Regions from separate parts of the Homo sapiens genome. Here region 1 is linked to region 2. The links come from fine-mapping of genetic effects on gene expression. A gene starts in region 2. The other region holds a variant in brackets. All regions are shown on one strand. Distances are from middle to middle.

Evidence for each region. PIP is the estimated chance that this variant, and not a neighbour inherited with it, causes the effect. A credible set is the group of variants that fine-mapping cannot tell apart.
Region 1: its variant is the best candidate, but not a certain one, in a credible set for the expression of CARNS1 in whole blood (INTERVAL, PIP 0.65).

What each region holds. Positions count from the first base shown.
Region 1 is chr11:67,219,025-67,223,024 of GRCh38, forward strand. It overlaps KDM2A (lysine demethylase 2A), which reads left to right. Exons shown (of 21, transcript NM_012308.3): 10 at 264-379. LOC124902839 (small nucleolar RNA U13) reads left to right here and starts at 1,884; the gene lies at 1,884-1,992. RefSeq lists an enhancer at 3,234-4,000. The variant C/A (reference allele first, on the strand shown) is at 1,553.
Region 2 is chr11:67,413,790-67,418,308 of GRCh38, forward strand. It overlaps CARNS1 (carnosine synthase 1), which reads left to right and starts at 1,889. Exons shown (of 10, transcript NM_001166222.2): 1 at 1,889-1,974; 2 at 2,387-2,413; 3 at 3,618-3,888. The coding sequence starts at 2,411. RefSeq lists an enhancer at 2,627-3,462.

The DNA of each region.
Region 1 (4,000 bases), 200 kb before region 2:
TTGGTGCTCCAGTAAACGTTTATTATGTGCTAAGCATTTGATGTGCATTTTCTCATTTAATGCTCATGAGCAACCATAAGAGGTATTATTTATCCTGGTTTTATAGAGGAAATTGAGGCTTTGAGAGATTAAGTAACTTGACAAACCACTAAGAAGCAGAATCAGAGTGAAGAGTGTGATCTAGGGGTCTTGTACTAGTTCTCTGAGAGAGACTTACTGTAATGTGTGTTTTCAGCCACTGCCCTCTGTTCCCCTTCTCCTAGGCTGGATTCATGCTGTGTATACTCCTACAGACACATTAGTGTTTGGGGGCAATTTTTTGCATAGCTTCAACATCCCTATGCAGTTAAAAATATACAACATTGAAGATCGGACACGGGTAAGTAATCTTATGTAACAGTTGCATGTGAAGAGGTTTACTCCAGTTATGATAGATGTTACAAGAGATTCACTGATGGTTTATCAAAACTTCCATTTTTCTTTCAGTTAAAATGCAGTGTTGACATTTTGGGAACACACAAAATTTTAAATTTAATTTTTTTTTTTTTAAGGCAGAATCTTGTTCTGTTTTCCAGGCTAGAGTGCAGTGGCGTGATCATGGATGATTGCAGCCTCAACCTCCCAGGCTCAAGCATCTTCCTGCCTCAGCCTCCCAAGTAGCTGGGACCGTGGGTGCACACCACATCTGACTAATTTTTAATTTTTTTCGTAGAGACTTGGTCTCACTGCGTTGCCCAGGCTGGTCTAGAACTCCTGGTTCAAGCAGTCCTCCCACCTCAGCCTCCCAAAGTGCTGGGATTACAGGTGTGAGCCACTGCGACTGGCCAAATAAAAATTTTAACACGATTTACATACTCCGTTTTAGGGACTCCAATTCTGTGAGGTTTTTGGTATCTTGGATTTCTTTTTCTTTCCTTTTTTTAAAATTTTATTTTATTTTATTTTATTTTTTAGCCAACACCATAGTGAATGGGAAAAAGTAACATTTTTTTCTTTTAATATTTGGGACAGAGTCTCACTCTGTTGCCCAGGCTGGTGTGCAGTGTCACAGTCATGGCTCACTGCAGCCTCAACCTCCCTGGGCTCAGTTGATCCTCCCACCTCAGCCTCCCAGGTAGCTGGGACTACAGGCACACGCCACCACATGCAGCTAATTTTTTTGTATTTTTTGGAGATGGGTTTTTGCTGTGTTGCCCAGGCTTGTCTTGAACTCCTGGGCTCAAGTGATCTGCCCGCTTTGGCCTCCTAAAGTGCTGGGATTACAAGTGTGAGCTACTGCATCCCACAGTATCTTGGATTTTTATAAGGCCAGACATTTACCTCTGGTAATCTCTTGAGCCATGTGTTTCATTTTTATGCTCACAGAATAATTTGGTGTAATGGGGCTTATCAACCCAAATTTCAGAACTTTAAATTCATGTATCTTTTTCTACACTGATGACTATACTCAAAGCATCTTACTTTAATTATATAAATGTATATACTGTCTTTCTCAACTGGGGTTTCAAGAGAGAATTAAGCCCAAAATAAAATAATTTGTGTATCTTATTTT[C/A]TCATTTTTCTCTAGGATGATACACAGCTAATACCCTTCTAGATGCATAGAAAAAAGTTAATTTATTATATACAATGGATACCTTAAGGCAAGAGTTGACAAACTTTTCCTGCAAAGGACCAGATAGTAAATATTTTAGGCTTCGTGGGTCATAAAGTGTCTATTGTAACTGTTTAACCCTACCTTGTAGCATGAAATACTTAAACAAATGAGTGTGGCTCAAATAATATAAAATTTTATTCATAGACACTGAAAGTTGAATTTCAGATAACTTTAACATGTCACAGAATACTCTTAAATTTTTTTCAACCATTAAAAAATGTAAAAAACGATCCTTTTATATAGTTCATGATCATGATTAGGTGTTCATGCACGTATGTGAAAGATGCCACCCTTGAACCTTGTTACTATTAATACGTCAGCACATTACCTGTCTGACCCGAAAAAAAAAAAAAAAGGTAAAAAACACTCCTAGTTCACAGGAATCATAAAAAGAGGCAGCAGGCCAAATCCACTAAGTGTTGTTTGCTGGCTAGCCTCCACCTTAGAGAATGAGAGCTTATTTTTTAGCAGAATTCTAATTGGTAAGGGCTGAATCATATATGAAAGTATAGATGATACTGGGATTAAACAGCAATTAGAATATTTGGGGGTTGTGATGTTTGTAAGTTACTCTCAAGTAGCTTAGCAGAATACTAAGCTAGTATGGAGATGAGCAGATGTGGAGAAATGTTAACAGTTGGAGAATTGCAGAGAAGAGTGTAGAACTATTAATGCTACTGCTCTTGAAACTTTTTGGTAGAATTAAAAGTATTAAAAATTTTAAAATAACAATTAATGAAGAATTCACAACTTTTATATGAATGGTCTTTTATATATTATAGGAATGGTCACTGACCTATGTACTGCAATAATAGTCAACCATTATGGTGCCTATTTTGCAACATTTATTTTGGTGTAGGAGTTACGTATCACTATACACATCATTGATATTATTGTTGGAGTTACAGGAATTGCCCTACTAGTAGAATTAAGAGAGGAAGCCAGTGCTTCTTCAACACATTTTATAAAAGTACATTTCTTTTTATTTGTTAAGAGTAACAAAAGTACAGTTCAGGCACAGGGGCTCATACCTGTAATTCCAACCCTTTGAGAGCCCAAAGTGGGAGGATTATGTGAAGCAAGGAGTTTGAGACTCTCCTGGGCAACAAAGCCGGGTGTGGTGGTGCATGCCTGTAATCCTAGCTACTGGGGAGGCTGAGGTGAGAGGATTGCTTGAACCTAGGAGTTCCAGGTTGCAGTGAGCTATGTTGGTGCCACTGTACTCCAGCCTGGGTGGAAGAGTGAGACACAGTCTGTTAATTTAAAAAAAAAAAAGATGTCTATTCTAAAATAGGTAAATATTCTAAAATAGGGAAAATGTTTCAAAAGAAAAAAAATGTATAATTCCATAGTAAAATACTCCTGTTTAACTCTGTCATTCTTTTTTTTTTTTTTTTTTTTAATTTATTTTTTTATTGATAATTCTTGGGTGTTTCTCACAGAGGGGGATTTGGCAGGGTCATGGGACAATAGTGGAGGGAAGGTCAGCAGATAAACAAGTGAACAAAGGTCTCTGGTTTTCCTAGGCAGAGGACCCTGCGGCCTTCCGCAGTGTTTGTGTCCCTGATTACTTGAGATTAGGGATTGGTGATGACTCTTAACGAGCATGCTGCCTTCAAGCATCTGTTTAACAAAGCACATCTTGCACCGCCCTTAATCCATTTAACCCTGAGTGGACACAGCACATGTTTCAGAGAGCACAGGGTTGGGGGTAAGGTCACAGATCAACAGGATCCCAAGGCAGAGGAATTTTTCTTAGTGCAGAACAAAATGAAAAGTCTCCCATGTCTACTTCTTTCTACACAGACACGGCAACCATCCGATTTCTCAATCTTTTCCCCACCTTTCCTGCCTTTCTATTCCACAAAGCCGCCATTGTCATCCTGGCCCGTTCTCAATGAGCTGTTGGGCACACCTCCCAGACGGGGTGGTGGCCGGGCAGAGGGGCTCCTCACTTCCCAGTAGGGGCGGCCGGGCAGAGGCGCCCCTCAAAACTCTGTCATTCTTAGAGGTAATTATGTACCCATTCTAAGATTCAGTCTGAAAATTGGTTTTTAGAATGTGTTCCCTTTTTATGGTTAAAGATGACTCTTACACCTGGGTCTTATACACTGGTTCAGTTTCAGGGAAGAAAAGGAAAATACATATTCAGTAACATAAAGTGAGTACCTTATCCCCTGCATGAAGAGTTTTCTACGTAAAGAGAAGAAAAATAAGGGGGAAAAAAAAAAAAGGCCAGGCACAGTGGCTCACACCTGTAATCCCAACACTTTGGGAGGCTAGGCAGGCAGATTACCTGAGGTCAGGAAGTTGAGACCAGCGTGAGCAACATGAAGAAACCCTGTC
Region 2 (4,519 bases):
TTCTTTCTTTTTTTTTTTTTTTAAAGAGATAGGGGGGCCAGGTGCAGTGGCTCACACCTGTAATCCTAGCACTTTGGGAGGCCAAGGTGACCAGATCATGAGGTCAGGAGATTGCGACCATCCTGGCCAACATCATGAAACCCCGTCTCCACTAAAAATACAAAAATTAGCTGGGTGGGCTGGGCGCGGTAGCTCATGCCTGTAATCCTAATACTTTGGGAGGCTGAGGCGGGCAGATCACCTGAGGTCGGGAGTTCGAGACTAGCCTGACCAACATGGAGAAACCCTGTCTCTACTAAAAATACAAAATTAGCTGTCATGGTGGCGCATGCCTATAATCCCAGCTACTCCAGCCTGGGCAACAAGAGCGAAACTCCATCTCAAAAACAAAACAAAACAAAACAAAACAAAAGTAGCTGGGCATGGTGGCTCGCACCTGTAGTCCCAGCTACTTGGGAGGCTGAGGCAGGAGAATCACTGGACCCGGGGAGGCGGAGGTTGCAGTGAGCCAAGATTGTGCCACTGCACTCCAGCCTGGTGACAGAGTAAGACTCTGTCTTAAAAAAAAAAAAAAAAAAAAAAGGGATAGGGTCAAAAAAAAAAAAAAAAAAAAGAGAGAGAGATAGGGTCTCGGCTGGGTACAGTGGCTTACACCTGTATTCTCAGGACATTGGGAGGCCGAAGCAGGAGGAGCACCTGAGGTCAGGAGTTCAAGACAAGCCTGGCCAACACGGCGAAACCCTGTCTCTACTAAACACACAAAAATTAGCCAGGCGTGGTGGCGTGTGCCTGTAATCCCAGCCACTCAGGAGGCTGAGGCAGGAGAATCACTTGAACCTGGGAGGTAGAGGTTGCAGTGAGCTGAGATCACACCACTGCACTCCAGCCTGGGCCGACACACTGAAACTCTGTCTCAAAAAAAAAAAAAAAAAAAAAAAAAGCGGAGCGAGCGAGAGAGATAGGCTCTCACTGTATTGCCCAGGCTGGAGTGCAGTGGCACAACCAGGACTCACTGCAGTCTCGACCCCCGGGGCTCATGTGATCTTCCCACCTCAGCCTCCCAAGTAGCTGGGATTACAGGCCCACACCACCTCAACCAGCTAGTTTAAATTTTTTTTTTTTATAGAGACAGGGTCTTGCTATGTTGCCCAGGCTGGTCACAAACTCCTGGGTTCAAGCAATTCTCCTGCCTCAGGCTCCCAAAGTGCTGGGATTATAGGCAGCCACCGCACCAGGAGAGGCTGGATCTTATAGACATCCTGGCCCCTGTGTGCAAGTCCACTGGGTCCAGAAGTGAGGAGGGGGCTGCACAGATGTGTGGAGACCCTGGCCCAGGAGGGCCTCTCTGGGAGAACGTGCAATAGGGCAAAGCGCTGGCAGCTGGGACAGAAAGCTGCAGGGCTGGGACCTCCGGCCTCCATCCAAAGGTAGGGCTCAGGGCTGTGTGCTCCAGGCTGCTCTCCCGGGCACCCCACCCCTAAGGGCGGGCCCTAGTACCAGTCTCTGCCTGCTCCGGCTCTCCCCGCCCCTCCTTTCCATCTCTTCTCCATGGTGGGCCTCCCTCTTTCTTCATGGCAGCCCTACGTCTGTGACCCTCGACGACAGTCCCTGTCCATCTGTACCTGGCCCTCTGTCGGGACTTCCTCTGTGTCTCTGAAGACCCCCGTCTCTCCCTGCCTGCTCCGTGCCCTCCTCCTGCTGGGTCCGTGTCCCGCCACACGCCCCCAGGTCTGGGACGTTTTCGTGGCTGACGGGCGGGGGGGGGGGGGGGCGCGTCCCCGGCGGGTCCCTATCGGTCCCTGTCGGTCCGTCCGCCCCGCGCCGCCCCCGCTGGGCACTGGGCATGCCCCAGGCGTTTCTATATAAAGCGGCGCCGCTTGGGCCGGGCGCTGTGCCACTGCCACCGCCGCCGCCGCTGCATCCCGCCCGGTCCGAGTCCGCCCGCCACGCCCGCCGAGCCGCTGCCGCCGCCAGGTACCCCAGCTCCGGCCCCGCCCCGGGGAGAGCCAGGGAGGGGGGCGGCCGGGGCAGGAGTCGCGGGGACGAGGACCCCGGGCGCCCGCTCCCCGCGGCGGGACCCTCGACGCTACGCCCCCCACCCCCGGGACCCGGTGCCCCCAACTCCCCCCCGCGCTGGAGGGGCAGAGCCAAGCCCGGACCCCAGGGCAGGAAGGACCTGTGAGCCGCACTGGGGCAGGAGCCACTCGGTCTGGGCAGCAGAAATCCCTCCCTACCTTCGGGGTGGGGGTGGGGCTGCCTTGGCCTCTCTCTGCAGGGACAGGTGTCGGCCACCTCTCCACTCCCAAAGTCTAGGGGCTGGAAGGCCAGGCAGGGACTTGGCTGCCCTGACTCCTTCGTCTCTCTGTCCCTCTGTCTCTGCCATCAGTCTCTCAGCCACTCCACCCACGAGATGGTGAGTCTTCTGTGGTCCCTCCCCCACAAGGCCCAAGTCCCTGGGCAGAGAGTGGGCCCAGAGGACAGCAGGCAGCACCTAGGACCTAAGCCTGGGAGTTGCCCCCTGCAGACAGCTTAGACCCACGACCAGCTCCCCCACCCCCACCCTGCGGCTGCATCCTGGGAGGTGGGCACTCTTAGTGCCCTGTGACATTCATTCATTCCATGGCCCCTCAGGGAGCTCACCTTCTAGGAGACGGCACAGAGGCTCTGGCCCTGGCAAACTGGGATTCGAGCCCAGGCATGAGGCCCAGTCCTCTGCCGTCTGGGCCACAGCACACCATCTCCCAACAACCAAGAGATTCTCTTCGTCCCAGCCTCATCAGCCCCCAGGGGATGGGAGAGGGCAGGCACCAGGCAACAAGGTCCAAAGAGACCTCACGACTTGCTCAAGGTGGCCGAGCCTGTCCCCTGGAGGACAGACTCAGCTGCCAGGCCTGTCCAGGCCTGGGGACTGCAAAGAACAAGAATTCCATTCACACGAAGCCTCCCAGCAGCCCCATATTGGGGGGGCGCCAGCCTCAGAGAGGGGAGGGACGTTAGGTTTCATCCAAAGAAAGCATTTCCGTGACTCAAAATATCTGCAGGGGGGATACTGTCTAGCCTCCTAATGTTTAGCCCAGGGCTGGGCACACAGTAGGGCTTCAAGACCTACGTGGGGATGACAGTGGAATCACATTTAGGTGTCAGCACACTCCATGCCGGGTCATGAGACAGAAATAAGCCACCTCAGAGTGATGGCTGGGTTCGTTCATTCATCTACTCTTCAGTCAACAAACACTTACTGAGAAGTGGCTGTGTGCCAGGCACGCTTTAGGTGCTGGGGTTGCCTCCATGAACAAAACAAGCAGAAAACTCTGCTGCTGTGAAGCAAGCTAAGGCGGAGCCCAGCATGGCAGGGGCGGGAGGGGCTGGCTGGCAAGACATTGCTTCCTGCCCTCCCCCCAGGGGCACCACACAGAACAGTTTACAAAGCACTCCCACGGTTGCGTTCCCATTAACAAGCCTTCGCCCCCAACACAAGCCTTTCCTCTCCTAGTCCCCGGGACGGTGTCAGCCCTGAACATAGCCCAGGCTGGGAGAGTGGGGGGCTTACACCCTTGGGTGACTTAATGTGCCCACTGGCCCACCCTGCCCAAGACCTACCACTTCTGCCCTCTCAGCTCTCCCTGGATCCATCGGGTCCCGAGTGGGATTGCCCACTGGGCTCCAAGGACCTGGAGGAAGAGGGCCCCTGGGGAGGGGGCTCTGGCCTGCCGCCCACAGGCTGCTTCCCTGGCTCCTGGCGCCAGGACGTGGGCCTGGACTGCAAGGGATCCCCCGAGGGGGCCGAGGCCCGGGCTTGGACTGTCTACTACTACAGCCTCCTGCAGAGCTGTCTGCAGCAAGCTGGCCTTCCGGAGACTCAGGACCGCGGCCAGGTGCCCCGCACAGGTGCCCAAGGGCTCCCTGGAGGGAGGCACCTCTGGGGGCAGGGAGGGGCCCTCAGCCCAGTCTGCTTGCTCATCCCTGTCAAGGTCGGCCCCTTCCCCTAGGCTCTGGTTCCATCTGAAGGCAGGGAAGGCACAGCCAGTTGGCCTAGGGTAGGCGGACATTGTTTGCAAGGGCATCTGGCACCAGTGAGGTCAAGGATTGGGCTCCCTGCCCTCACCCCCTCCCCAAAAAGACCCAGCCCTGGGATTGGGAAACCACGTTGTGTGGCACCGAAGCTTCTAGAGAAAGGTCTTGGGAGCTGTGGTGGAGGCAGCTCAGCAGCTGAGACCCCCCAGACTCCTCCCCTTCTGCCCCTCCACGCCTGTTACATATATCAGACTTTGTGTGGACAGAGGGTTCACAGGCAGAATACCTGAGAATCACAGACTTGGTCCCATTGTACAAACTTGGAAACTGAGGCTTGGAGGAACACTGACTCCTCCAAGGTTACACAGAAAGTCAGAGCTCGGGCTAGAACTCAGGTCTCCAGTCACCTAGCCCACAGCACCTCTGGAACAGCTGCAGAAAGGGGAAACCAGCTTCACGGGGCAGGACTGGCGGGCACCTCCATTCCCTGCCTGTCCCCTGTCTC